3 separate regions of the Homo sapiens genome follow, and all the other regions are linked to region 3. The links come from fine-mapping of genetic effects on gene expression. A gene starts in region 3. Each other region holds a variant in brackets. All regions are shown on one strand. Distances are between the middles of the regions. Region 1 overlaps TAFA2 (TAFA chemokine like family member 2). Region 2 has its middle 24 kb from the start of TAFA2. Region 3 holds the start of TAFA2 (TAFA chemokine like family member 2).

Region 1 (10,470 bases), 74 kb after region 3:
TTGTGGCACAACGGAAGAATCTCAAACTTTGGAAACCTCCATGTTTTCAAAAGGATGCCAGCAAACCTGCTCAAACTTTACCCTGGAAAGAAAAAATATCTTTATTATCCTAGTGAGAAAACAAACCTGCCTTCTGCCCTGGAAAGAGACACTATTTCTACCTTCCAAGGCAGTTTGACATAAAAACATTCCTGAACAGCTAATCTGGAACGAAATATATGTTAATGCCTTTGCTTGGAAAGTGCAGAAATGGGAGCCACCCATGGAGAATTGTCTCCCAACAGCTGATGCACTTGGCACATTGTATTAAAATTATCCACTTAAGTGTCTGGTTGGTGAGCTCATTTAGGGCAGAAAGGTAATCTTTTTCATCTTTTCATCCCTACTATTCAGCATAATGCTTGTCAGCGAGTAGAGAATCAATGTATGTTTATAAAATCAATGAATTAATAAAGACTTTTAAAATATGGAGAATATGGGGAGCTATATTTCAAATTATTTTATAGCGAATAATCCATTAAACCACACTAAGACAACTGGTTTTCAAATGCCAAGTGGCCCACAGACAACCAGCTGGTTTTCCGTGATCTGGATTCTAATATATGCGAAAAAAATTTATTATATGATGATAATATCAGATTCACTTATTATATGCCAAGCACTGAGTTAAACTCTTTATAAATAATGCCTCAGTATATCCCAATAAACAACCCTATGAGTAGTACTATTATTATCTGCTAGTGGTAACAGAGACTCAGAAAGTTTAAAGAAAGACTCAAACAAAAAGTTTAAGTAACTTGTTCAAAGTCATACAGGTGGTCAGTGGTGGAGATGGAATTTGAACCCAGGCAGTTCGACGCTGAAGATTGTGTTTTAACAACTTAAGTTGTGCGACTCCTCACAGGAAACAAAAGAAAAAAAATATCTGCGGGAGTTATCTTAGGTTCTCTAAACATGTGCTCTGTCTCTCATACCAAACTTGGATAGACAGAACACAAATATGCCCTATTAACAGGTTCAGTGAGCATTTGGGAAACTAAACTGAACCGTTTAGCATTTGGGAACTAAACTAAACTGAACCGTTTTAGTAAAGATGTCTCTCTGAAAGGAAATTCTTCACGACGGTAAGATGAGTGTCTTCGTCTGTGAATGCTGAGGTTGGGGATGCATGAAGATATGTTATTGCTAACCTTCAACTAAACTAGGGCAGAGCCGGGCCAGCTTCATGGGCATGTGATCTGTGTAGTCACACAGGGCCCCATACTTAGAAGAGCTGTGCTTAGAGCAGTTTGCTTGGTTTGGTTCCTGCTCTGTTTTCAATCAGTCAGTCCCTGGATATTTCTAAGGGTGAGGACTCCAGAGGGGAAGGGTGAATTCCTATCAATCATATTCCTGTAATTATTAATTTTTTAAAAAAATAAAAGGTATACAATTCTGCAGAGGGAGTGAACGTCTGTTTTACAACTCAGGTGCTCATAGAATCCTTTTTGGCTTTTTCCCCAACCTCTTTCTATGTACATGAAAGTTCACTATCACCCATCTTAAAAGAGCTGTGCTTAGAAGAGTTGACTTGGTTGGGTTCCTGCTCCGTTTTCACTGTTTTGAAATTCTTGGTACTTTTTTTGAACAAGGGGCCCTGCATTTTCATTTTGCACTGGCTATTTCAAATTATGTAGTGAGTTATGGGCTGGAGTCTTGATTGACCCTTTACAACAGTGCATTATTTGACAATAGAGAAAGGATATGGGCTGGCTACACCAGTAACTAGAGGTTCTGCCAATATCTGTACTGGAATTTCTAAGCCGTGGAATATCCAATTCCCTGTGTATTTGACGATTCTGCAAGATCACGCTGGGATTGATTTAAGATGTATTTATTGTTGAATACTAGCCTATCTTAAGGAAAATAATATTACAGACAGTTATATATAATTTCCTAATTTTTAAAGGTCTTAGATCTATTTTCATTCTTTTTTTCTGGTCTGATGGTTTGTTTTAGGCCAATTTAACCATTCTCCTTTTATAATAAACACCAAATCAATTCAATGAGAGATAACATTTCCTTTTAACAGCAATCAATATTTACTATTTCCCTTTTGATGTATAAGTTACATTTCTGTTATCCTTAGTAAATGTGGAATGCACTTTGTGATTCCATTTTCTTTTATTTCTTGGTGTGTGTGACTGTAGGCTCAATATACTCTACTCTTGGGTTGGCTAATATATTTCAGTGATGTTATCAACAGCTTTGATTTGTATTCTTTTAGTAATACTTCTTAACTCCCTTTTTTTTTTAACTTCCTCAGAAATCTTACTTAGAGACCTTATATGACCTTTGGTCATACTCATCTGCATTTATTTCTGACAAATACATATGTAATCCAGAGCTTATCTCTTGAAGCTTTTTTTTCTGTACAGTTTTATATCATTATCTTTGCAATCTTTGCGATTCTCTGATGAATTCTACCATTCTTCTACAAATGGAAATAAGCAGGGGCAAAAATACTGATTCGCAGTGGTTTAAAAACCACTTGTCTTGAGTTATTGTTACTAATTTATCCAACTTCTAAATCTTTTCTGTTTCCAAATTGTTGCATCTTGTAGGCTAGTCAGCTTAAATTCGAGTTTAAACAGGAGAATATTTGATGAATAAGTTCTGTAACCTCCTAACTCTACAGACTTGTCTGTTGTACTGCTGCAGACCCAGCAGAGGGAGCCCAAGTTCATGAACCAATCTCAGGAGCGATTTTGATGGTTTAGAACTAGTTCTCCCTCAAAAGGTGGTGTGTGTGTGTGTGTGTGTGTGTGTGTGTGTATGTGTGTGGTGGGGGAGATTTGAGAATATGTGGGGTAGGTGTGTGTGTGTGTGTGTTGGGGGAGGGTTCAGAATGTATGTGTGTGTGTGTGTGAGAGAGAGGGAGAAAGTAGAATGAAGAAGTATAAAGTGTTAACCATTTGAATTTTAATATATACTTCAAATGTGGGGGATATATTACATCTTCTGAAGAAAAATGACAGAAATGATGAGGAGAAGCATTTGATTTTCAGATCCTGAAAAGATCTGACCACTTTTTTTTTCTTACTTTTCCAGTTAGCCTGTTCTCCCTTTAAAAGTTTTCAGATTGAATTCTTATACATTTCCATTTCTTGTGATTTTTATATTTAGGGCAATTTCCCAGTGAAAGCTTTTTTTTTTATTCCCTTCTTCAGTCTATTACCTTACAGGCCCACACATTGTGTGTGCACCTACATCTGAGATAGCAACTCTTGGAGATTATTTAAGTTTAGGTGAATGTTTATTCAATAGATTAATCAATTAGTCCACCAACTATCCAAACAGACTTATTGAGCTTCTAGTGCTATATGAGGTGTGGAGTGTGGGCATAGAGAGAGAGTATGCAGTTGAGAGAGGGAATAAAAGCTGTTTTCTGTCCTCGATAAACTTAAATGTGGCTGAGTATATAAGCGTATTTGGTAAAATACAAAATGTTATGTATCTAAATGCTAAGCAGTAGTTCAAAATGTCCATAAAGTGAATATGAAATAGGTGTTCAGAGGAGAAATATGTAGATACCTGTAGCTGGAAGAGCCTAGAAAAGCTTCAAGGGTGATATGAGCTAGATGATGACTGGTTTTATGCATGTTGAGATGAGAGAAGAGGGTTCTCCATGGTAGAAAAGCAACATAAGAAAGGCCATGGAAAAGAAGGTATGGTTTATGATGGGGCTGCAGGTCACAGTGTGGGATTATGCTGTTTGTGTGCTGCATACCCCTATGCGGTGCAGTTCACACCAAGCCAGTGTGAATGGTGTTTCTCAATGTACCCAGTGCCCTAGAATGAATTCTGTGGTGATTGGGGTTATATGGAACAGTGAGTGGTTCCTAGCCCTTTGTATGTTATCAATCACTCATTGAGAGGAATCTATACAGAGGCAGTGCAGTACGGTGGGTATATATGGACTATGTAATACATTGGAATCTTGGGTTCATCAGAAAATAACTGTGTGACCTAGCTCAAGTTATTAACCTCTTTATGCCTTATTTCCCCCTCATTTATAAAACCACACGATAATGATAGTACCTACTACCTGGAGTTGTAATGGCTAAATGAGATAAAAAGTCAATGCTTAAAGGAGCACCTAGAGCCTGAGTGTTAGCTGTTATCCTCAAAGAGCTGATGTGTTGCTCTAACAGAAGGAAATATCCTACTTTTTCAAGTGTAGAAATATTCCATTAGGCTTTTCGTTATGAACATCCTGGGTTTCATCTAGACTACTTTGTCTTTTGCTCTTTGAGAATGATGGAGCAGATCATATGCTGATCTCACAGGCGGATTCATTGAGGTAAATCAGATAGCATGGGCTTTTAAAAAAACTTATAAGTTCAGGGATACAAGTGCAGG[T/A]TTTTTACATAGGTAAACTTGTGTCATGGGGATTTGTTGTGCAGGTTATTTCATCACCCAGGTATTAAACCTAGTACCGATTAGTTATTTTTCCTGATCCTCTCCCTCCTTCCACCCTTCACCCTCCAAAGGCCCCAGTGTGTGTTGTTCCCTTTTGTGTGTTCATGTGTTCTCATCATTTAGCTTCCACTTATAAGTGAGAATGTGTGGTAGTTGGTTTTCTGTTCCTGTGTTAATTTGCTAAGCTCCATCTCTGTTCTTTCTGGTTTCAGTAAAATACAAAGGTGACACTGATTTCAGGAAGAGTGATGTTCACCTGGGAATTCAATGGTCATGCTTGTGCTTGCAGCTTTCCCACATTTTCTAGTTGTTTTGAACCATGGACAGAATATAAGCTCCATGAGAACAGGGGTTATGTCTACCTTGGTCACTGTCCTATCTCCTGAACCTTACATTTGCTTTTACCCTCAAATGAATGGGTCAGTGATTGAATAGAGGCATGATTTAGATAATTATCTCTTTTTCTCACAAATTTGTTGGCTGTCCTATCCTTAGCATAGTTGAAACAGGTTATTACTACAGAATATCTTGAGAGATGCCAAATTTAATATCTTTCCTGGTGGTTGAATCATTGCCATAAGATGAAAATCACTTATACTTTAGATCACGTTATAGTTTAAAAATACTCTCTCATACATCATGTAATTTCTGACAGCATTCATGGGAATTCGTTATTTCTCATAACTAATAGATTTAGTCACTGAGTCTCAGTAAAGTTGAATCACTGGCTCAATGTTACACACAAATCATTGTGGACTTTGGACTTAATCTGAGGTCTCTGACTACAAGCGCAAATTTTTGTGGCACTATACTTTTTAAATATCTGACTTGAAAGCCTTATGATGATACTCACTCCCCCGGCAGGAATAAAGTCTTTCTAACTTCCTCATATTGGTGTATATATGTTTATGAGATTAGGTAGGGGTTATCATGGAAGACCCCAAGAGGGATTCATAGGGAATGTGATACTGAGCAGAACCTTGAGGTGAGGAGAGATTGAACTTACCTAGGGTAGTTCATAGAAATCATGATGCAGCCAGATCACCGGAGGTCAGGAGTTTGAGACCAGCCTGACCAACATGGAGAAACCCCGTCTCTACTAAAAATACAAAATTAGCTGGGCCTGGTGGCATGCGTCTGTAATCCCACCTATTCGGGAGGCTGAGGCAGGAGAATGCTTGAACCCAGGAGGCAGAGGCTGCAGTGAGCCGAGATCACGCCATTGCACTCCAGCGTGGGCAATAAGAGCGAAACTCCATCTCCAAAAATAAATAAATAAATAAAATAAATAATAATAATAATAATAAAGAAACCATAATGCAGCCATTGGAAATGGAAGGCCTAGATGGGATACCCCACTAGAGACTCTGGAGTAAAGGCAGGAGTGCATAAAGAGATAGAACAGGAGAGACTGGAAAATAGAGAGCCTGGAGTGGGCATTATAGATTTTCATACCTTTATGTGAAGCTGGTCATGCTGTTGGGTCAGCTGGAAACCTAAAGCCAAGTAACTGAGTAGGCTGGAGTTGTGTTTGACTGTACATACCACACGAAGGAAGAGTTTGGAAAGACTATTTCTTACTTTCTCTTCTTCTCTAGTTTTGGAGAAAAGTCTTCATCAAATATGTTAGTAATATTCAACATTTTCTATGCCAATGTTTACATTATAGTCTGAAGCATGTCTGGAAATGGATGTTGTTTAAAAATTTTACCGCTATTGACTGCTTCTATTTTAAATTTCCTACATAATGAAATTACTAAATGGAATCTTTAAAAAGAAATACAAATGCCTATTTAATGAGACCATTGAAATGTACAATGCCATATCCTCTTACGTGCTTAGTAATTACAGACGTAGTTGAAGTCAGTCAACATTTGTGGGTATATCAGTTGTGGAACGACATAGATGGGCCTATTTTAGATTTATTTATGGCTCCCTGATTATATTGTGGAGCAAATTTTTGTTCTTTACAGTATCTAGCACAGCACTTTCTCATAGTAGATGTTTAATAGATGTTTGTTAAATGGTTTGGAAATTAAACACTTTTACTTTTTTTTTTAATGTTTTTTTTTGAGATGGAGTTTCGCTCTTTTTCCCCAGGCTGGAGTGCAATGGCGCACCAGAACTTCTGCCTCCCAGGTTCAAGTGATTCTCCTGCCTCAATCTCCTGAGTAGCTGGGATTACAGGCTTGCACCACCACACCCAGCTAATTTTGTATTTCTAGTAGAGATAGGGTTTCTCCATGTTGGTCAGGCTGGTCTCAAACTCCTGACCTCTGGTGATCCAACCGTCTCGGCCTCCCAAAATGCTGGGATTATAGGTGTGAGCCACCGTGCCCGGCCAAACCCTTTTGCTTTTACAGAGATGCAGTCATACCATGATGGAGCAGAAACAGAGAAACAAGAGCTCCTCTGAAATAGTGGATATGTGGCAATTAATTTACTTTTTGGTGTGCCTTTTCTTCATTTGTGACCTACTTATCTATAAGGTACAGGTTAATTCGGTTTCATTTAAAGCAGCGTTCAAAAGAGCTAATACAAAAATGAGGTAAAACAAATTATGTCATAGTAGGAATGCAAAAATGAAAATAGAAGTGGATATGTGGAGCAATGATTATGCTTGCCTTTCCCATATTGTGGTTACTTTTGTGTATGGTGTATGTGTATATATGTATGTGTGAATTTGTGTGTGTTCCAGTTAGTCAAAACAGATTTTTAAATATGCCTTGTTGAGACGATTGGGGATGCTTCGGGGAAATCATCTTCTTGTTTCTCTTCTTTTTATAATCATTCTGATTGTATTTGATAGTATTGGTAACCTCAACTCCTACTATGCAAATTTTTTTTCATTTAAGAAAACATTATATAACTAATTAGAATTTTATGTAAGTAGTAAAATTTGGGAGTGTTTTTTTAAGAATAATGTAATAATAATTTCCAGTAACTACAGATCAATGCCTGAAGAGTAAATAATTCATTAAATGTCTATGAAAACATGACACTAGGTCCTTCCCTCACACTACATGAAAAAACAACTCCATATAGATTAAGGATTTAAGTATCAAAAGCAAATCTTTAAACACTTAGTAGATAATCCAGATGAATGGTTTTTAGGTCTAGGATGTAGAAAGATATTTCTTAAATAAGGCATAAAACATGTTAACTATAAAAGAAAAGACATATATTTTGCTATATTAAAATTAAAAGCTTTAGTTCATTAAAGAGATGTCTTAAAGTGAGAAGTACTGTCACAAACTAGTTGACAATCTACATAACGGACAAAGGATTGGTGTTAAGAGCACAAAAAATTATCTACAAATCAGTAAGAAAAGTAGCAAAAGTTATAAATAGACACAGAAGAGAAAACTCATATGACTAACAAACATATGAAGAGATGTTTATTACACGATATCACATCCATTAGTGATCATGAAAACACAAAGAAACATAATAATACAACATAAATTTACACTGTTCTTTTGGAAGAAAATATAAAAGCCTGATAGTGTCAATTATTGGAGAGGAAATAGGTCCACTGAATGTTCTTCGCTGACTGGAGGGCAAATTGGTGCAATCATTTTAAAAAACATTAAACAATTTGGAAAAATTGAACATTCATATATCATATGACTTCAGAATTATACTCCTAGATATCCAATAAAACTCATTTACATATACAACAAAAATATGTGTAAAGATGTTAACATCATTGCCACTTGGAATGGAATAGCCTGGAAACAATCTAAATAGACATCAGTAGGAGAGTGGATGAATAAACTGTGGTATATTCACATTAAAATATGACACAGTAGTAAAATGAATGAAGTACAGCATTTACAAATATGAATAAATTTTAGCAATATAATACTGCACAAAAATAGCAAGTTCTAAAAAATTAATGATACCATTTTATAGAGTTAAAAACTAAAATATCCCTTTAGATACATATATATGTAATTATTCTTTGTGTACAACAGCAAGGGAATAAAGGGAATAATGAGTATGGGATGAAATTTGGTTATTGCCTCAAATCTGAAGATTCAGAGGGATGTCATATGAGGTGACTGCATAGTTGAATGTGGGTTGCAATCAGAGCCCCAATATTTGTTTTGGGAAAATTCATGTGTACTTATCACATTATTAAAAATGGCCAAATAGATAAAAGTGGGTCATACAATTACCAATGCTGAGAGTATGTTATAAGCCACGGATTATTATTAATCCAATTCTGTGCACCTGAAGTACAAAGAGGAAAAAAAGATGAACTAGTTCCCAAAATAGATGAATATTAAGGAAATTCAGTTTTTAGCTATATTTTAAGAGTTGGCATGGCAGGCTCTATTTTGTTGCTATTTTTATATTATTTATCAATGCATGTTTAGATTGTATGTTATAAGAAAAACAGCTTTAAGAACTCATTCCCAGGTTATCTGTGTCTATCACATAAAAAAGGAAACATAGGACTCATTCTACTACATTTTCTTGGTGCTCACTTAAATTATATTTTATATATTTTCTAAAGAAAAAATTGAGACAGTACTGAAACCAGTTTTAATACAGATAAGATACTTGGAACATTTGAAGTGTTGAGCATTTAAATAATCAGCCTAAACACATCTGTTGGAAATATGTGGGGTCCCAGGCTGAATACTGTGAGTCAATATGTGGAATTTCAGATCTAAATATCTAATTTACTAAAACATAGTTCCTAAAATGCACCACTTTTTTTTTATATTTAGAAAACAAAATTGGAAGCATTCTAGAATAGCAAAATTAAAACTATTGTGAATTATTGCAAATATAACACAATGCCAATATAATGAGGGCATATGCAAGATCCAAACAAACACAGGAACTAACCAATAAAACGAGTAGGAATTTCAGCTTACAAAAGCAACTGGCAGTCTTTAGAATTTGTAAATACTATTTTGTAATGAAGCCCAGATACTTATTCACATCTGTTTGTTAGGGTTGCCATAACAAAATACTACAGACTGAGTGATATTAAAGAACAGAAATTTCAAAGTTTCCGGAAGATAGAAGTCCAAGATCAAGAGTTGGCAGATTTGGTTTCTCTTGAGGCCTCTTTCTTTGGCTTGCAGTTGGCCATTTTCTCCCTGGATCCTCACCTAGTCTTTCCTCTGTGTATGCATCCCCGGTGTCTCCTCTTCTTTTAAGGATACCAGTCATGGTGGATTAGGGTCCTACCCCAACAGCCTAATTTTAACTTATTTAAAATGGCCAAATAGATAAAAGTGGCCAAATAGACAACCTCATTTATCTCCAAATAAGGTTACATTTTGAGGAACTAGGGGCTGGGGCTTCAGCATATGAGTTTAGGAGGAACACAGATCAGCCCATTACAACCTCCATTTCTGTTACTGTGATTCCCACGACTTAACTCCATAATTAGTGTCTGCTGTTTTCCAGGTCCCGTTCTAGGTTCTGCTGGGACACAACAGTAAAGCCTACAGTCTGTACATCACAGATGTACGTGAGAAAGCAGCAAAGACCCAAAATTAGAGGAAAAATTTTACATTTGCAAGTGCCATTATCCCTAAATCCCTGTCATTTTTATTGAGGACTAAAGGCTTCCTTCTTAATTGTTTGAAAAAATTAACCACTGTTAAATAAATAAATCCCTGCTGCCACATACGCCAGAGCCTACAAGATACTTTATGGAGGTTTGCACATGAGAGCAGTTTAATGGCAATGGAACACCTGTAATTAGAAGCATCTGTCGTTGTGATAATGATTGTGGGCTTATATTTAGAACCACTACGTTTTCTCTGTCCACAAGGTCTTACTGTGTTTTCTCCCTGGCTCTCACACAGGCTTTCCTCTGTGTATGCATGCCTCAGGTATGTCTCCTCCAATTGTAGCCACATGGGCTTCGTGCATCTCAGTGTATGCTGCTGTGAAAGATAGCTATCTGTCTTGTTTGAGGTACTTCTCAGGTCCCTTCAAAGTGGAATTTGGGTTAGCCACACTGTACGTATTTGAAGTCAA
Region 2 (10,114 bases), 22 kb before region 3:
TTTTTTTCAGGTCCACTCCCATCTTCTTAGACTCTTTGCTTTACATGGTTTAGAAATCTCTACTGTGGCAATTTCTTTTCTCCAACTTACTGATTTCTAAGAGTTTGAATACTAGCACTTTGTAGTTGCGTGTTAAAAATATATTCTCCCCTCTTTAAGCTTTCTCTTATCACCCTTTTATGTTGTTATTTGGTGAACATAAATTCTTTACCTTAATGTACTAGATTTTTTCAATCTTAACTTGATGGTCAGAGCTTTTTGCATCTTATTTAAAAATGATTTCCTTCTCTAGGGTCATAAAAATATCCTCCAATTCTATTTTCTAAAATCTTTATCATTTTTGTCTTTATATTTACTTCTCTGATCCTCCTGGAATTGATTCTCATGAATCAATGAGAGGTTAGGGTCCAATTTTATTTTTCCCAATTATCCCACACCCATTTGCTAAAAACCACCAATCTTTTGTGCCACTGCTGTCATATATTAAGTATTCATATATGAATAGATCTTTCTGAGTTATCTATCCTGAGTCATTGATCTATTTGTTTTTCCCTGAACTAATAGCACTTAGACTATTAGTTTCCCTGAACTAATAGTCTTAGTTATCATAGCCCAGTAATAAGTCTTAGTATCTGTTACCAACCTAGATGCCTACTAAATCAGTTGGTTGGTCTAATATTTTCAATGTTTTTGAACAATGAATATCAAAGAATACAAAAATGATCTGTACATCTAGCTATTTGGAGATGGGTATTTTGGTGAATATTTTTGTTTCTTTTCTTTCAAACTTCCTTCCTTCCTTCCTTCCTTCCTTCCTTCCTTCCTTCCTTCCTTCCCCCCTTCCTTCCTTCCCTCCTTCCTTCTCCCCTCCCCTCCCCTTCCTTACCTTTCCCTTCCTTTCCCTTCCCTTCCCTTGTGTTTTGTTTTTGTTTTTGTTTTTGTTTTTTTTTAGACGGAGTCTCGCTCTGTCGCTCAGGCTGGAGTGCAGTGGCACAAACTTGGCTCACTGCAAGCTCCGCCTCCCGGGTTCATGCCATTCTCCTGCCTCAGCCTCCCTAGCTGGGACTACAGGCGCCCGCTACCATGCCCGGCTAATTTTTCTATTTTTTAGTAGAGATGGGGTTTCACCGTGTTAGCGAGGATGGTCTCGACTCCTGACCTCGTGATCCGCCCGCCTCGGCCTCACCAAAGTGCTGGTCTTACAGGCGTGAGCCACCGCGCCCGGCCCCCTTCCCTTCTTTCTTTTCGCTCTTCCTTCCTTTGTTCTTTTCTTTCTCTCTAAATAGACTATTTTTTTTTAGCAGTTTTAGATTAATAGCAAGGTTGAGTGGAAAGTACAGAGAGATCCCATATGCCACTGCGTACACACACGCATACTCTTCCCCCACTATCAACATCTCCCACCAGAGTGGTACATTTGTTACAGTCAATGAACTTACATTGATGCGTCATTATCACTCAATGTCCACAGTTATTATTAGGATCCACCCTTGATGTTATATATTTTGTGGGTTTTGACAAATATATGATGACATGCATCCGCAATTAATTTTGTAAGAAACTGCAAAACTGTCTCCCAAAATGGCTGTACTATTTTGCATTACTACCAGCAGTGAGTGACAGTTCCTGTTGCTCTATATCCTCACCAGGATTTGGGGTTGTAATGTTTTGATTTTGACCATTCTTACAGGTGTGTAGTGGTATCTCATTATTGTTTTAGATATTTTTAAAAATTTTTTGTCTTGTTTTTTATATTTTATTTCTCATTTTATTAATTTGTAGTTTTTTCCTTTTTAGTAAGTGGGTGTAATTTTGTAATTTTTTAAAAGTAATGATTAGTTTTTAAAATGATTTTTCCTTTGAGTTTATTGTTTCCATTTCTTTCATTTGACTTTTACTTTGTTCTAGTTCTAACTTCATTAGGTTTTTTTTATTTGGTGGCTTGTTTCTGCCTCTAGTGAGGTTTTGCCTTTATTAAATAAAACAATTGCATCTGAGCAGTTGTTTTATTTTTGGTAACATTTCAATAATTTAGTTGTTTAAAAATGCTCCATAACTTTCTTCTAGATTTTTCCACTTCCCAAAATGTACTAGGTATTTTCAGTTTTCATCTTATATTCTCTTTGATCTGCTGATCACTGGGTTTAAAAATAGTTCATATCTACAGCTTAGCTTGTTGAGTATTTTCTGCAAAAGAATGAGATTTTGTGTTGTGTTTTAAAGGTAATGTGTTAGAATCATTTCTTTACTTTAACAACCTATTGAAAGAGGAACACTTGCAGATATAGTTATAACTTAATAGAAGGAGGCACAGTTTTCATGTACTGGGTGAGTGATTTATATTAAAAGCAGTTAGGTTATATAGTCAGTGATTTAATTGTAAATTTGGTGAGCAAATTCAACCCCTTATGACAAATAGTGCTTACAACTTTAAGTGAACAAACTTTTCTTTAGAAAATAAGTTTCTTTTATAACAAACACCCAATTTCAAAGGTTCAATTCAACAAGACTTGGAATTTTCTATTAAAATTAACTTTTGATTATTATCGAATAACTTCATCCTTGGTATACAAAAATTCAGGTTTATGTGATTTAGACTAACTGTAGATTTAATTTAAATTCTGGGGTTGCTGTGTGTAAATATTCTCTAACCTTCTCCTGTATCTGCCAATGCTTTGCATTTCCAAAAGCACTTGTGTTAGCAACTTCTTCAAGTTTTCTATTAAAGACTAATAAAATTGTGACCTATGATTTCATTTACAGTTTTAACCGAAGCTAATTTTTCATCTCTACACTTTAAGTAATTTCACAGATGAATTTCTCTTAGTTTTGTTTTTGAATTCTTTTATGTTAACCTAAGTTTTTTTTTTCAAAGCTGGAGCATATTTTTATTCATCAATTTGCAGAGATATAATCTTACTGTGAGAAACTTAAGTTGTTTTGTGTGTTTTCAAAAATGTTTTCCCACTAAATTTTCTTTTGCTATATTCTCCCTGGTATGTTATTCATTGTCAGTAATTAAAATGCTATTTTGTCCTCATCTTTTCTAATTATGTGTAAATTACAGTTTTCTTATATTGTCATTTTAATTCTATCATCTCAAATCCAAAATGTCATAATGTCTAGCTACTTTGCAAGTATGATATTATTGAATCTCCTATGTAAATGTGTAACAGCCTGAAAAATGTCCTTCAGAATATCTTTGGTAAATAGAAAACTATTCCAATTTAAATGTCCTTTAGATATCTACTCTGATTATCACTGATTTATTGACTTTGTGACTTGCAATGAGAAAGCAACAAAAAAAAAGAGAAAGAAAATAAATGGCTATGTATAATATTATATCCAAGAATATCTGAAACATCTATTTCATTCATAGATTTAAAGCTATAAAGATCGTAAAGATAGTAGTACTATATTATAAAATATAGAGCTGTGCTTGACATATTGTAGGTGCTAAATAAATATTTATTAAATGAGTGAATGAAATTCAGAATTTTCACAGGAGGCAAACACAGTACGGGTTGGGTTAGGATATTTAGCTTTTTCTTTGCTGAATAGCAAATTGTGGTAGTTCTCCAGGCTAACATTATCCCTCACTTTGATAACTAGGGATGTGAGCCTACCCAACTGATCACATACTAGCATTTCAAGTAATAGGGGATGTGTTCATCAGACACGGGTAGGAGAGACTCTTTTCCTTTCCTTCCCTCATTTCCTTTCTTCCACTGTTTTTTCTTTACAAATTAAAATTCAGGCCAGGTGCAGTGGCTCACTCCTGTAATCCCAGCACTTTGGGAGGCTGAGCGGGGAGGATTGCTTGAGTTTAGGGGTTCAAGACCAGCCTGGGCAACATAGTAAGACCTCATCTCTACTAAAAATTTAAAAAGTTAGCCCGGTGTGACGGTGCGTGCCTGTAGTCCCAGCTACTTGGGAGACTGAAGTGGGAGGATCTATTGAGCCCAGGAGGCTGAGGCTGCAGTGAGCTATGATCGCATCACTGCAGTCCAGCCAGGGCAACAGAGTGAGACCCTGTCTCAAAAATAAATAAATAAATAAATAAATAAATAAATAAATAAATAAATACATACATAAAAATAGATAAATTCAATCAGCATTAGTTTTGAAAAGTTCAGAAGTAAAACTTTTTTCTCCTGGCTCATTTTCACTTACTCAACTCAATAGCATTTTGGTAAGTACCCATCTCAGGTATGTTTGCTTGGGAAAAAAGATTCTAAGATGCAAATTTGTCTGAAAGAAGTTTACTGAAGAATGTCCTTGGGATCGATATCTGTGAGAGAGCAGAGGAAGTAAGAATATTCATGGGAGAGCTGAGCTGTGATGCAATTGTGATAATGGCTTCAGCCACCTCGAGGGAAGCTCTGGAACAGGTATGGCCCTTCAGAGTTGGCCTACTTTGAAGGAAGGGCTGGGCCTTATAACTTTACATCTGGATCAGTCACTGAAAATGAGCTTCCCTCTGGAAAGGGACTTGATCTTGGGCAAGAGGCTTTCTTCAGCTGACTTGGGCAGCTCTGGGAGAACCTACCTCATAACAGACAGTTTTAGTCCATTAATCACTTGATCTTCTGTAATTAGACTCTTTGTCTTTTCTCTCTGTCTACCAGGGCCCAGTTGCACTGCAGAGAGCTTTTATTTTAAAAAATGGTGTGTAACTCCTTACTTCAGATGGAGTGGTTTGATCCAGAATCCTAGGTATTTACATTGTGGTTTTACTTTAGGGCCTTGCCATAAACTCCACATATTATCTTTTCCTATTACTGATGCTTTTCATACTGAAAGGTCTGCTGGATCATATGGCCCAAGTACTCCCTGTACCTGCTGCAGGGCTGTCTGCTGCTTTGGACCCCACTCAAAGCTTGTAGCCTTTCATGCTATCTAGAGGGTGGGTAAAAGCAGTATTTGCCAATATGTAATATGTTAAACATGTTAGCCAAAGAGGAATACCAGAATACCAGGCATGGTGCTTCCCTTTTTGCGGAGAGACATATAAGATACAATAATTTGTTTCATTTAGAGAGGATGTCGCAGCTTGTACCAGATCACTGGACTCCCATATACTACCTACATGGCATTTCCCTGAACCCTTATAGGGTTTAGCTCCCGCACTCTGGAATGCATATGGTATACCGTAATGTATATGCTAACTTCTTGCTTGTCTAGTCCAATTAATATGGTACCACTGAAATAGTGAACCAATGCTATGTTTTGACAAATGACCAGTTCGGGCATCTTTGAAATACATTATGTCAGAGGGCAAAAGAATTAACCTAGCTTTGGGTAAGACTGTAAACATATACACCTATCTGTTTCAAGTGAATTCAAACCATTTCTGATCTTTCCAATAAGATTGGAAAATAAAGCGTTTTTCAGATCAACAATAGTATACTGTGTATTAAGAATTTGTGGTAATCTGCTCTAGCAAAGAAGCCACATCTGGGACAACATCTATAGTTGGAACTACTTTTCTGATCGAGTTTGCCTTACTTTACTGTCATTCTCCAAGATATGTCTGTTTTTTGTAGGGTCCTTGCTGGTCAGTTGAAAGGGAATAGGATGAAAATCAGCAACCAAATATTATGTAGGTTTTTAAAGGTGTCATTAATCTCTGCCACCACTTCCCCAATACCCACACTAACAAACAGATGAAATGCTGTTTGTTAAAATTTACTGTCTTGGGAAGGAGCAGTTTCAGAGTTTAAAATTACCTTTCTCTACTATATGGGTCTTATTCCACAGTCTAAGGTACCAACATGGGGGTTCTGCTAATTACCAAGCATGTCCACTATTGTTATTCAATTAGCAATGGCAGTAGTGACTACTGGATAGGTGTGTGGACCCGCAATTGGATAGCACTTGGCCAGACTCCATTTGTTACTTTACCCCCATATGCTGGTTCTCTAACAGAGGAATGTAATGATGCTTTAGTGTCAACTCAGACTCTGTGTCCAAAAGTCCTTGAAACATTTGGGTATTTTCTTAGTTGAGAAAATGGCTTTTGGTACTGTCCCCTTGGGGAAGGATTGAGGAAACTGTTACTTTATTCACTTGCCATGGTGATACAGGGTCTCTAGAAACCCCATCTTTTGATGGGCAAAACCCACTGGTCTTTACAAATAGCAATTCTTATAAAATTTCATTTGATGCTCATGACAACCATTATCATTAGAGTAGCTGCTATTATATAAGAGCTCTCTGTCTACAAATAAGAAACCAAGATTCAGGGAGTTTAGGTCACACAAAATGTAACTTGCAAGTGTCATATCTCTTTTTTTTTTTTTTTTTGAGAAACAAGTTGTTTCTCTTAAGCAAGAGAAACAAGTTGTTTCTCTTAAGCAAGAGAAACAAGTTCTTCCTCTTAAGCAAGAAAAACAAGTTCTTCCTCTTGTTTTTTTTTTTTTTTGATAAACGAGTTGTTTCTCTTAAGCAAGAGAAACAAGTTCTTCCGCCCCTTTTTTTTTTTTTTTTGAAAGACAAGTTCTTTCTTTTTTCCAGCAGAGACTGTGGCTGCAGTAAATTTTCCCTGAGTAAGATTGTACTTATTTAATTTTTTGTGTCTAAAAAGCAGAGTTGAATAGCAAGAGCTTGGTGAAAATGTCAGTACTTCCCCAGGCTATGAGATGTTCTGGAAAATTTGTTATTCTTGTATCCTATTACCTTGCCTTTTCCCATTTCAGGTTATTCCTACTGTTGGAGCAACTACTGAGAAGGGAAAACTCAAATGATTTAGAGATAAGACACACAGGGCTGCTTTTGGTGACTGCACATCTGCATTCAATTAATAAACAATTTGTGAAAAATTGACTTACCA[A/G]TAACCCAAAATGTGAACAAGTAGACATTGACTTTTGTTCTTCAATTCCAAAACCTGGAGGTATGATTGTCTTGGAAAGTTTTGGTCTCTTATGAGGATATACAGAGATAGCTTGTGCAAAAGTAATGATTTCACTTCTTAGTACTCTCTCTTAGGTGAGAGTTGCACAACTTCCTTTTCTCTCTAGTCTGGCCCCTTTGAGTCAGGAGAGTGGGTCTCAGAATTGGTGCAGGGATGTAAGTAGAAATGGTTATCAAAATAAATGGAGCCTTTAAAGATAGTATCTCTAGAGTGGTATCCCTTCTTATCACTGCTTTGAGGCATATTATATTAGAAGGTGGGGATAATGGGTGTGTGTGTTAGTTTGTGAGGGATGCCATAACAAAGTACCATAGACTGATGTCTTAAACAACAGAAATTCACTTTCTCACAGTTCTGGAGACTAGATTTCTCAGAGCAAGGGGTCAGCAGGTTCATTTTTTCCAAGGCCTTTTTATTTGGCTATCTTTCTATGATATTGCTGTGTGTGTGCATGTCTGTGTCCACGGGCACAAGGGCACCAGTCATATTCGATTAAGTCCCACCCTAAAGACCTCATTTTAATTTAATTACTTTAAAAAAGATCTTATCTCCAAATACAGTTACATTCTGAGATAGTAGGAGTTAGGACTTCAACATATAAATTTTTGGGGGTGTATTAATTCATTTTCATGCTGCTGGTAAAGACATACCCAAGACTGGGAAGAAAAAATGGTTTAATGGACTTACAGTTCCACATGGCTGGGGAGGCCTCACAATCATGGCAGAAGGAAGGAGGAGCAAGTCACATCTTAAATGGGTGGTGGCAGGCAAAGAGAGAGCGAGCTTGTGCAGGGGAACTCCCATTTTGAAAACCATCAGATCTCGTGAGACTTATTCCCTATCATGAAAACAGCACAGGAAAGAACTGCCCCCGTAATTCAATTACCTCCCACAACACATGGGAATTCAAGATGAGATTTGGGTGGGCATACAGCCAAACCATATTGGGGTTAGGGGCCATAAGTCAGCCTCTTATAAGGGGGATTATTTCTCACATTGGCAGTTAAATTCCTAAATAAACAAGGGGCTAAATCAACCCTTCTTAACCTGGTGCATCTTAATGGTTTGTGAAATTTTAGAAGTACATGCTTTCATTAGGTTCTTAGTTCCCCAAAAGGCTAAGAGTCCAAATAGTGTTTACATACTGGTAATGATGCAAACTGGGAACTTGATTCGATATCTCTGTGTTTAATAGTTTTTTGTTTGTTTGTACACAGGTCTAGGAACCTAGTTTCCATCTTAATGAGTTTCTATAGGATGGGGACATTCTGAGTTCAAAACAATATATAAAAATCTTGAAAGGTATCTTATTCACAAGTTGAGGCTACCTACTCTTGGAGTAAAGAAGAATAATTGAGTTTAATGAATTTCAGTGGATGATAAGTATTTATTATTTAACTTGGATTGTAAATTCTGAAAGACAAGACCATGTGTATTAACAAGGCACAGCACCACACACAGGAGTACCTAATGGCAACTTACACTTTTTTTTTTTTTTGAGACAGAGTCTCAGTCTGTCACCAGACTGGAGTGCAGTGGCACGATCTCGGCTCACTGCAACCTCTGCTTCATGGGTTCAAGTGATTCTCCTGCCTTAGCCTCCTGAGCAGCTGGGACTACAGGCACGCGCCACCATGCCCAGCTAATTTTTGTATTTTTAGTACAGACGGGGTTTCACCATGTTGATCAGGATGGTCTCAATCTCTTGACCTCATGATCTGCCCACCTCGGCCTCCCAAAATGCTGGGATTACAGGTGTGAGCCACCACGCCCAGCTGCAACTTATACTTTTAATAATTATTTAACAAATTGAACTTACCTAAATGGTTCAGGTAATCATCTTGAAAACTAGGCAGCTTATCCATAAACAGAGTACACCTAGGGATTTTGTTTTTACCTGAATTCTGAAGCATGGCTTTAACACTATTCCATTCATCCTTCTTACTACTTCTCTAACTGTGACCCTTACCCAAGTAAGAAGGGAATGAACCGTGGTGGGGTATATGAGCAGCTGCCTGGTGTAAATCCAAAAGAAAAGACAGGCATTTATAGTGGCTCCCGGGTATGAATTGATTCAGAGATGGGCCAAAATTTGCGGCCTCTATTTTATATAATTTCATAATTGCACTTTTTTTAGAACTAGCATATGAAGCAAAGACTTCAGATAGCAATAATATATTTAGGCTTATTTTCAGGCATCTTTAAGCACTCTAATATTAAAAGTTTTAATCTTCTGTTAATAATTTTTACCTTAACATTTATATCTTTTGGATTCATGTGGTTAGGTGTATTTTTTGCTCTCATTAATGCAATCATTAAGAAATCTGTTGTATCAGTACAGTTATAATTTATTTATTTCTCTTGAGAAATGGCTTACACCTTTGATAATTTAGAATGCCAAATGAATAAAAAAGAGGATTTTTCAAATGTTTCGCTTTTATTAGTACCTTTTTTCGGCAGAGCATATGAGAATCTCAACTATTGTAACAGGGTTTCAAAGGAAAGCAATTCTATCTACCAAGAAAAGAGGACACATATTTAGAGAATCGTTATTCAGCAGACAGAGGAGAAGAGGGACTTTTCCTTCATGGATGTCAGACGACTTTGGTAGGCTCAGCTATAATAGTTTGCAAGCTCGAAAAGTGTCTAATGGGGGCAGAAAGGAGTTATTCCTAGAGGGTATCCCTGGGGAATATGAATCATGATCATAAAGAGATGAAAATGTGCTTATCCAAACCCCTTAAAGGGCAAAACCTGAAGAAGTAGGCTTATGTGTGAAATACAGGGCTCAATGAAACACCTCTTTATAGGTGGATTCTTGGAGAGGTTGTTGAATTTCCATTGCTGAATATCATTAAAATGACAGGAAGGTTTTGGGTCTGGGATATTTTGAATACAAACTTTTGGAAATAAAGGAAAGCTGAGTACTATTTGAAACTTCCTCTCCAATTCTGTTAGCTAATGGTGACTATACACCAAATTTCTTTCTACCTGCTTTTCCCTGATTTGCTGTATATCTTGAATCACAAAGGATAATTAAATTATTACCTTTAACAATATTTATTGCTTGACTACAGGTTTCATACTAGTTGATAATTTGTTGTGAAGTGGGTCACTAATAATAAAGTTACTACTGACAGAGTATTGACTTTTGGGATGTATTTACTTTGAAATGTAAAGTAGAATAGTTACTATAATTGT
Region 3 (10,248 bases):
AATTAACACCACAATGAGATATCATCTCACACCAATCAGAATAGTGTTTATTAAAAAGCAAGAAACAACAGATGCTGTTGAGGTTGTGGACAAACAGAAACACTTTTACACTGTTGGTGGGAATGTAAATTAGTTCAACCATTGTGGAAGACAATGTGGTGATTCCTCAGAGACCTAGGACCAGAAATACCATTTGACCCAGCAATGCCATTACTGGGTATATACCCAAAGGAACATCAATCATTCTATTATAAAGATACATGCATGTATATGTTCATTGCAATACTATTTACAATAGCAAAGATATAGAATCCACACAAATTCCCACTAGTGATAGACTCGATAAAGACAATGTTTTATATATATATACACATACATATATATATATATACACACACATACACACACACACACCATGGAATGCTATGTAGCTGTAAAAAGGAATGAGATCATGTCCTTTGCAGGGAAATGGATGGAGCCCAAAGCCATTATCCTCAGCAAACTAACACAGGAACAGAACACCAAACACCGCATGTTCTCATTTATAAGTGGGAGCTGAACAATGTGAACACATGAACACAGGGAGGGAAACAACACACACAGGGGCCTGATGGCGTTGGCAGGGTGTGGGGAGGGAGAGTATCAGAATAAATAGCTTATGCATGGGGGTATAATACCCAGGTGATGGGTTGATAGGTGCAGCAAACCACAATGGTACATGTTTACCTATGTAACAAACCTAGACGTCTTGCACATGTATCCAGGCACTTAAAACAAAATGAAGTAAAATAAAATAAAAAGGCATGTGGCCTACTTATCCCCAGTACTCCAGCTTACAATCAGCCAATTGTCAGATAATGACGGAGGCAATGCACTGCCAGTTGATTTCAGACACATGAGTAAGCCCAACCGAGTCGGGAAGAATGAGCCAAAAACAAATTGCCAATCCACAGAAATGTGAACTAAATAAATGTTTCTTCTTTAAGTAACTAAGTTTTGGGGTGGTTTGTTATATTTGCCTACTACATGTAGGACAGTTTTCCTGCCTCAGTTGTTTCTCACATCACTTTGTGAAATGGTCTTCTTGACTTATCTCCATGGCATGTGTCTATTCAGTTGGCCTGTTTGGTTTCCTGAGTTTTGACCACAAAGTATTTATAGAGTATTTATTGTGTGTAAGGTACCATGCTAGGGGATGGGGATAGCATAAGTTAATAACATGCATGTAACCTTGGGTTGTGTGGAATGAATTCTGTGCTTCCTTCCATTCACTTGATTACATGAAAATATTCTGTAAATGTTTTTAAAAAACATTTAAAAGATAAGTGAGAGACACATTATTGCATAAGTTAGAAATAACTTGGTTAACATCAAATAAAATAAGAGGAGACAAGTGGGGATGAATGGCTTGTAGGTAGCAATCCTACAAGCTAAGAACTATGAACTGGGACTCGTAAGTTTTAATTTAATTGTTATAATACCGTATCTTGCAGAACACTGCGGGGAGCCAGAGCTAATTTTTCTCCTTATTCTATCTCTCTTACTAATCTCTTCTCTTTATTCTTACTAATGAACCCAGGTTCTCTGGCTAAAGCCTTTTCCATATCCAGATCCAAATGAGTTTGATCTCCCTGTGATACAGGGGTTGGAGGCAGAAAGAGAGGAGGCTGGGAAAACAAAAACAAGAACAAAACCAAGCCAAACAAAAAATCAATGACTGGCTCTGACTTTAGATAGATCTGGTTTGAATCTCAGCTCCAATATATAATAACAGGTAGATTGTCTCATTTTTTTTTTCATGTGATAAGTGGGTTTATATCGTCTGCTTTATGAGATGTTGTGGGGATTTGAGGTAAGGAGTTTGGATATAATACAAAGCCTTTTGTAGAAAGCTAGAAGTGCTCCAAAAGCTCTCCACCACAGCAGATGGGAATACAAAATGGCACAGACACTTTAGAAAATACTTCTTGTTTTTAAGTTAAACATACCCTACCATATGATCCAGCCATTTCATTTCTAGGTAGTAACCCAAGAGCAATGAAAACATAGGTTCACTCAAAGCCTTCTTCACAAATGTTCATAGCAGCTTTATTTTTAATATCCCCAAACTAGAAGTAACCCAAATGTTCATTAAGAGGTGAATGGTTAAAGAAATTGTGGTATATCTACAATGTGAAATACTACTTGGAAGTAAAAAAGAATGACCTATTGCTATGTACAACAACACAGATGATCTGAAAATAATTATTCCAATGGGAAGAAGCCTGACAAAAAAAGAACACATAAAATACTATTCAATTTATATAAACTGTGGAAAATGCAAACTATAGTGACAGAAACTAGATCAGTGGATGCTAGAGACAGGACTGGAAGAAGATATGGATTATAAATGGGCATGAGGTAACTTTTGGGGGAATGGAAACATTTGGTATTTTGACTGGTGGTAGTTTCACAGATATACCCATGTGTCAAAACTCATCAAATTGTACACTTTAAATACATGCAGTTGATTGTATATCAATTATACTTCAATAAAGTAATTTTCTATAAAAGGCAAAAAAGAAAAAGCCTGAAGTGCACCAAAGTGATTTTTAGCGAACAGAACATGGAAAGCTATGATAGAGTTACAATCCAGTTAAGTTCAGTGTTTAAAGAAATTATTTTTTACTGCTTAGACTTGAGGAGGATGGCAATTTAAACAAATATGGCTATTCCTCAGCTTGTTGTGCCTTACTTTATTGCAGCAGTCCCCAACCTTTTCAGCACCAGGGACCGGTTTCATGGAGGACAATTTTTTTCAATGGACAGTTGGTGGGGGATAATTTCGGGATGAAACCATCCCACCTCAGATCATCAGGCATTAGATTCTCATAAGGAGCGCACAACCTGGATCCCTTGCATGTGCAGTTTACAATAGGGTTCAGGCTCCTGTGAGAATCTAATGCCGCAGCTGATCTGACAGGAGATGGAGCTCAGGCGGTAATGCTCATTTGCCCACAGCTCACCCCTGCTGTGAGGCTGGGTTACTAACAGGGAGGGTACCAGTCCCTGGGGGTTGGAGACCCCTTCTTTGCTGCACTTTGCAAATATTGTTTTTATTTATTATTATTATTTTCTTTTATTTTTACAAATTTAAGGTTTGTGGTAACCCTGTGTTGAATAAGTCCCTCAGTGCCATTTTTTCAGCAGCATGTGCTCACTTCATGTCTCTGTGTTAGATTTTGGTAATTCTCACAATATTTCAGACTTTTTGTATTATTCTTGTATCTGTTATGGCGGTCTGTGATCACTGGTCTTTGATGTTACTATTATAATTGTCTTAGGATGCAATGAACTGTGCCTATGTAAGATGGCAAACTTAATTAATAAATGTTGTGTGGTTCTGACTGTTTCACCAACTGGCTGTTCCCCCAACTCCCTCTCTCTCCTGGGGTCTCCCTATTCCCTGACCTAATATTGAAATTAGGCCCATTAATATAACCCTACAGTGGTCTGTAAGTGTTCAAATGAAAGGAAGAGTCTCATGTCTCTCACTTTAAATCAAAAGCTTAATAGGGAGGAAGGCATGTCAAAAGCTGAGAACTAGGCCTCTTGAGCCAAACTGCTAGGCAAGTTGTGAATGCAAAGGAAAAGTTCAAGAAGGAAATGAAAAGTGCTGCTCCAGTGAACACACAATGATAAGGAAGCAAAACAGTCTTATTGCTGACATAGAGAAAGCTTTGGTGGTCTAGATAGAAAATCAAACCAGCCACAACATTCCTTTTAGCCAGGGTCTAATCCAGAGCAAAGCCTTAACTCTCTTCAATTCTATAAAGGCTGAAAGAAAGGTAAAAAATCTTCAGAAGAAAAATTTGAAACTAGCAGAGGTTGGTTCATGAGATTTAAAGAAAGAAGCTGTCTCCATAATACATGAGTAAAAGGTGAGGCAGTAAGTGCTTAGGTAGAAGCTGCAGCAAGTTATCCAGAAGATCTAGCTAAGATCATTGATGAAGGTGGATACACTAAACAACAGATTTTCAATGTAAATAAACATCCTTATATTGGAAGAGGATGACATCTGGGACTTTCCCAGCTAGAGAGAAGTCAGTGCCTGGCTTCGAAGCTTCAAAGGACAGGATGACTCTCTTGTTAGAGGATAATGCAGCTGGTGACTTTAAGTTGGAGCCAATGCTCATTTGCTATTCTGAAAATCGTATGGCCCTTAAGAATTATAATAAATCTACTCTGCTTGTGTTTTATAAATGGAAAAAGAAAGCCTGATAGCAGCACATTTGTTTACAGCATATTTTATTAAATATTTTAAGCCTACTGTTGAGAGCTACTGGCTTCACAAAAAGATTCCTTTCAAAATACTACTGCTTATTGACAATACATTTGGTCATCCAACAGCTCTGATGAAGATGTACAAGAAGGTTCATGTTGTTTTCATGCCTGCTAACACAACATCTGTTCTGCAGCCCATAGGTCAAGGAGTAATTTTGCCTTTCAAGTCTTCTTATTTAAGAAATATATTTTGCTAGGCTACATCTGTCATAGATAATGATTCCTCTGATGGATCTGGGCAAAGTAAATTGAAAAGCTTCTGGAGATCATTCACCATTCTAGATGCTAGAAGAGTTGCTTCTGTGGATGAGCAAAGTAGTTTTTTTTGAGATGGAATTTACTCATGGTGAAGATGCTGTGAATATTGTTGAAATGACAACAAAGGATTTTGAATATTTTATAAACCTGACTGATAAAGCAGTGGCAGAGTTGAGAGGACTAACTCCAATTTTGAAAGAAGTTCTACTGTGGATAAAATGCTATCAAGCAGCATTGCATGTTACAGAGAAATCTTTTGTGAAAGGAAGAGTCAATTGACACAGCAAACCTCATTATTGTCTTATTTTAAGAAATCGCCACAGCAATTCCAACCTTCAGCAACCACTACCCTGATCCATCAGCAGCCATCAACACTGAAACAAGACTCTCCATCAGCAAAGAGATTAGGAATCACTGAAGGCTCAGATCATCAGTACACTTTTTTTAAAAAAAGCATTAAACCATTTTCAAGGTAAGATATGTACATTTTTAAGACAAAATGCTATTGCATACCTAATGGACTGCAGTATGGTGTAAACATAACTTTCACATGTGTTGAGAAACCAAAAAAATTGTGTGACTCACTTTATTGCAATATTTGTGGTGGTTTGGAACCAAACCTGCAACATTTTTGAGGCATGCCTGTAGAAGGTAAGAAGTATCAACAAAAAATTTCTGTTAAATTAGGAGAATCTTTACTACTTTGTTTCCTTTGAAGAGAATGCAAAAGATTTTATTTTGTCTAGGAGATGCTGGAAATAGGAATATCTTGATCTAAAAATTATTGGGAATTATTTACAAAAAGCACAGAGGTTATGATAGAATTTCAGCATCATATGACATTGGATAAGAAATTTTGTTCTATTTTGTAATTAATTTATATATCTGTTCTCTTTACTTTTTCATATATTGTAAAAACACAGTGGGTTTAGTTAGAAAAATAAGGCTGAAAATGTCCCACACTTAAACAATACAAATAAAATTTTAACAAGATGACAAAACTATAGATTACAACCACAAAAAGTTAATGAATTAGAAGGTAGAAAGATTATAATGTATGCTTTATGTTTTTTTGTATGTGTGTGTGTGTGTGTGTGTGTGTGAAAAGAAAGCCAATGTTCTAAAGTGATTTTGTAAGTGACTTCTTTCTAGTACAGAGTCCAAGTTTCCAATGTCATTCCTGCTTGAATTTCATCACACTATTGAACACAGCAGACAAAAAAATACTGTAAGATTTGCAGTGCAACAGTGCCAGGTGTTTTAAAATGTAAACGTTGCTTTCCTGGATATAAGTTACTATGTAAGTGGAATGAAATATTTAATCACATGGCATAAATCTTTTGAAAGAGACTATCTGAGAGATCCTTGGAAACAAATGATTGCTGTATACTACTAGACAAAGTCAAATATGCCATAGAGCAATTAGTTACGGTAAAACTTGCCTTGTTTAGTTTTGGTGCTTTGTTTTAAATGATTTCAACTAGTCTCAGCTATTTAAAAAATACATTCTTTTCTTTCTTTATGACTGTGCTAATTTAGATTATCAAGTTAAAATAGAACTGCTCCAGAAATTCAGAGTGAATGGAAGGGTGTTTAATAATAACTTTAATACACATTTTACAATTTTTGAACATACAGAAACATTTTGAAAGCAAACCCCCAGCTCAAATAGTAAGTTCACAAAAATCTAAATGTTAAGGTTACAGATGGGACCTAGCTTGATTTGGACTGATGTAACAAAACTTTATAAAATCGGTGGAGCTATTTTTTATAAAAATGACCACCTCAACATAATTAAATTACTTGATGCATTTTAGATACAAAATATGGTTGATTTACTAAGCATGTTAAGATAAAATAGCTAAGTGAAGCACATATTCTATATTTCTTTGTAAATATGGTATGTAGTATTACTTTTATTTTATAGCTGGTGAAGAGAGCTTGTGATACCTAATTTGTCAATGGTTTCAGTGAATCACAGCTATATAAAAGCACAGACCTTTAGAGCTGGAAGGAATTTAGCTATCTTGACCATTATTGGTCTAGTTGAAAAAGAGGTATGAAAACTGGCTCCAAAACCAGATTCTTGAGTTATCTTTCCTTGTAAAGGACTTGTAAAATTTCCTGGGTCAGCATTCCCTTTCTTTGTTTCAGATTTTCTTTTTCTGAATTCATTCTTACTAATTATTCATTTTTGAATAGTCTTCTAATCACTAGATTAAGGTTTTGCTCATCTCCAAACATGATCGAAGTGAGCCTCAGAAGACCCTTCATTTGAGCTCATATGCACAGCGCTTAAACCGACACCCAATTTGACCAAACATGTAAGGACATGACCTTCCAGCGTCATGAATATCACGACGTTCCTTTAGCAAGGGCTTTGCTTAATAGGGCTGCAGTGAAAATCCTCCGTCTAAATCCTTGAGAAGTTGTAATTTGTAAAAATGCAAATTATCTGAAACCAGATATTTTTTTCTTTTTCTTTATGGAGAGAAACTGGTCTGTTACATCTAGTAAAGCGTTCTAATCCGGTTGACCCTCTAGAGGGAGACATAGTCCAGCTTTTATACCAGTTGCCTCCTCATCTTTTACTGTCTCGTTCTTTTTCTGCAGGACCGTTGTTTGCTCTCAACGGCAGTTGCTGGGGCTAACAGAACTGGCTGTTGGGAGAGAGAGGCGAGGCAACGCCGCCCGGCCCTGCCATTCCATTTTACTGCTTAACTCAACCTGGAGTGTCAGGACCTATTCTCCTGCATTCTCGCTGCACTATACGGGGGAGCCAAGTCACTCTGTACTCACTGGACAGCCAGGCTGGGTGGAATAGGGTTCTAGAGTGGAGCAGGGGCTCTGCCCTTTATGGCGACTTTCTAAAAGATTAGCATCAGTGTCTTTTGACAGTATAGCATCTGGGGTGGGACGCGGAGAGGAGGCTTTGCTTGCTAAACGGCTTCTTTCTCCGCCGGTGATCTGGATTTGTTTCCTCGGCCCCCTCCCCCCGCTCCTTTCTTTCTCCCCTCCCGCCTTTAGCAAAGTGACACAGGCGACACCTGCTCGCTTGTGTTCGATGTTGGAACTCGCACCTCCTCGGTGGTGACGGTGCCAGGGCACTGCTACCAGGGGGACATCGGCGGGTTTCCCTTCCTTCCAGCCCACGATGCCTAGAAGGGCAGCGGGTGGGCTGCGTGGGGCTCTGCCCGCAGCACTTCGAGGCGGGATTGAGGGGCTGAAGCTGGCCAGGAGTTGCTGCTAAGTGGATTCGAGTGGAAGGCGCCAAGTCTCCGCGAGGGCACCAGCGGGGACCTATCTGCGAGCAGTGGGAACAGGGGCACCTGGACGGAGGAACGCGGGCGTCTGGAGGGGGGACATCGGCTGAGCTCAGAGCCTCTCCTCCTTCCTGTCCCGAGCTTCCCAGCAACTCCGCCACGTTGGAGACCCGGTACCTGCGAGAGCCAGGGAACTCGAGAAGTGCGTGGCCGAGGCTGCTTTCCTGAAGGTGAATCATTCTGTCCAATTGCCTTTCCCCAGAGAACAAGAGGGAGGGCGGGAGAGAGGGAACGGAGGATGTGTGAGTGTGTGTGTGTGTGAGAGGGAGAGACGACGTGAGGCGAGAGGAAAAGTCTTTAGTCGGCCTTAAAAGCAAACAAATCAGAGATGGAATAAGAGCGGTAATTGCAGCAAGACCGCCTTGATTCTTGCAGTCCAGGGAGCTGAGCGCACCGCGCGCATCCGGCGAGGACAGGAGGCGACCGCGGGCGCTGCCAAGGGCTGCGGGACTTTGGCTTTTCCTCAGTAAACAAATCTTTTGATTACTTTGACACTGTGGAATAAAGAAGCGGGGAGAAGGATCAGGCTCACCTTCACCCGCTTCAGGGGGATTCCAGCTTGGATGTCAGATTCCTGAACCGTCTTTGCCATCGGAGGAGGAAACACATCCACACACGCGCGCGCACACTCGCACGCTCAGGGCCACACTCACACGCCGCCCTCCACGATCACACAGCACCAGACTTCGGTTCCCTATGCCCCTGGATGGTGACGGCGGATTGGCATCTTGGAAGCGATGCGAGAGCGATAAGGCTGGCGCCGGCCCGCAAAAGCTGCAGGAGCATCGCTAGGTGTTGCCGCCACCGGGAAGCGGGGCTGCAGGTAGGTGCGAGCCGCGCCTCGGGTCGCCGGCCAGCGCTGGGGACCGGAGCGGCAACTGCAGGACCGCGGTCCCGGAAGCCCCCGTGTGCACACGTCTCCCTTCCCCTTTCTCGGGGGTCCGGGACTGTAGAGGGATCGCCCGGGGAAGGCGAGAGGTGAGGGCAGATGCGGGTCCATCGGCCGGCGTCTCCCTCGCGGGCGGTCAGGGTAGGGGCGGAGTAGAGGGACGCCGAGAGGGGATCGGAGCATGCGAAATGAGGCTCCGTGAGCGGTGCCCTCCCTCTCTGCCCCATTTCTCCTAATAACAGCAAACGACCAGGTCGAGGATTGAAGTGGGTTGTAATTCGATTCCTCACCCAGACCCATCCTGGCTGGTAACCATTTTGGACTCTTAATAAGGAGTTGGGGGTCGCATTCCAGGGAAGATCAATGGGATGTGTCAGGTCATCTTTCTGAAATCCCTACTTTTTGTCCACTTCTGATTAGTTAATTCTCAGGCCTGTTTGCAGAAGGTGGGTGTTTCAGCGAGTCTATTGATTTATCCACCTCTAACTATCTTCATAAAGAATCAAGCTGATAATTTCCGGAGCCTCATCTATGTAAGGTTTATTTAGATTTGGGACGGGGCGCTTTCTTACTGAATGAAATAAAGCTTTTGTAAAGGCTACTACAAGAGAGCTTTAGTAAATGATTCTCTTAACGAACAGCGTTCAGAATAAGAATGGCTTCGGGAAACTAATGGTTTTTTATTTCTTTCCGGTTAGATGTCTCCCGGATCTTGCTACTAGTACCCGGGTTTTCTGCTAACTGCTTTGCCATTCCTTCCCCCTTCAATTCTGAAAGGCCAGGTGCCTACCAAGTATTGTTTTCTTGAGGCTACTGATCTTCACTTATCAATGGGGGAACGTGTTATTTTCAGAAACTGGCTTTGCAAAGGAAAGTTTGAGATCCGTCGCCCTATTTCTCTCAGAACTGCAGGTTGAGTTATCCTGTCTGAAAAGGAAGAACCATAGACGCTCGTAGAGCCTTTGGGTGGACGCGAGGCTTCCCTATTGAGTATTCCACGTCCTGACCGAGTGTTAAACAATTGCCTGAAGCGTTTGGAATCAAATGTGTAGTAATGTTACTCCAGCGGCTAGTCTCTCTTCACCTTTGCTGCGTGAGTTTGATTATGGCAATAAGAGAGAGAGAGGGAAAAAATTATCTTTTTGTGAGTATGAAATCCCCTCTTGGATTTTACAAAATGGTTCGTGGAGAAAAAAAACCTTAAAAACCACAGACACACACACACACACACACACACACACACACACACACAAAGCAAACTCATAAGCAACCTTTACTCTGAAGTGTCCCCAAAGTACTTGGTAGTGTAGCAGGGTCCTTCACACAGGACAGGATGAATTTCAGTTACTATTGACTGAATGATAATTATCTGATTCTTGTCTTCTCAACTAGATTGTTTTAAACATCAACATTCAGAGTTGTCAATTAACACTCCTAAACTGCTTTATTAGGCAT

What was found. PIP is the estimated chance that this variant, and not a neighbour inherited with it, causes the effect.
Region 1: its variant is fine-mapped to the expression of TAFA2 in breast (GTEx, PIP 0.92).
Region 2: its variant is fine-mapped to the expression of TAFA2 in whole blood (TOPMed, PIP above 0.99).

The regions. Positions count from the first base shown.
Region 1 is chr12:62,116,126-62,126,595 of GRCh38, reverse strand. The region is part of intron 1 of TAFA2 (TAFA chemokine like family member 2); the gene reads left to right. Among named protein-coding and RNA genes, the nearest start is that of TAFA2, 71 kb to the left of the region's middle. The variant T/A (reference allele first, on the strand shown) is at 4,402.
Region 2 is chr12:62,211,939-62,222,052 of GRCh38, reverse strand. It overlaps a transcript of TAFA2 not described here. Among named protein-coding and RNA genes, the nearest start is that of TAFA2, 24 kb to the right of the region's middle. The variant A/G (reference allele first, on the strand shown) is at 6,833.
Region 3 is chr12:62,189,738-62,199,985 of GRCh38, reverse strand. It overlaps TAFA2 (TAFA chemokine like family member 2), which reads left to right and starts at 7,213. Exons shown (of 5, transcript NM_178539.5): 1 at 7,213-8,727. RefSeq lists a silencer at 5,624-5,918 and an enhancer at 7,288-7,821.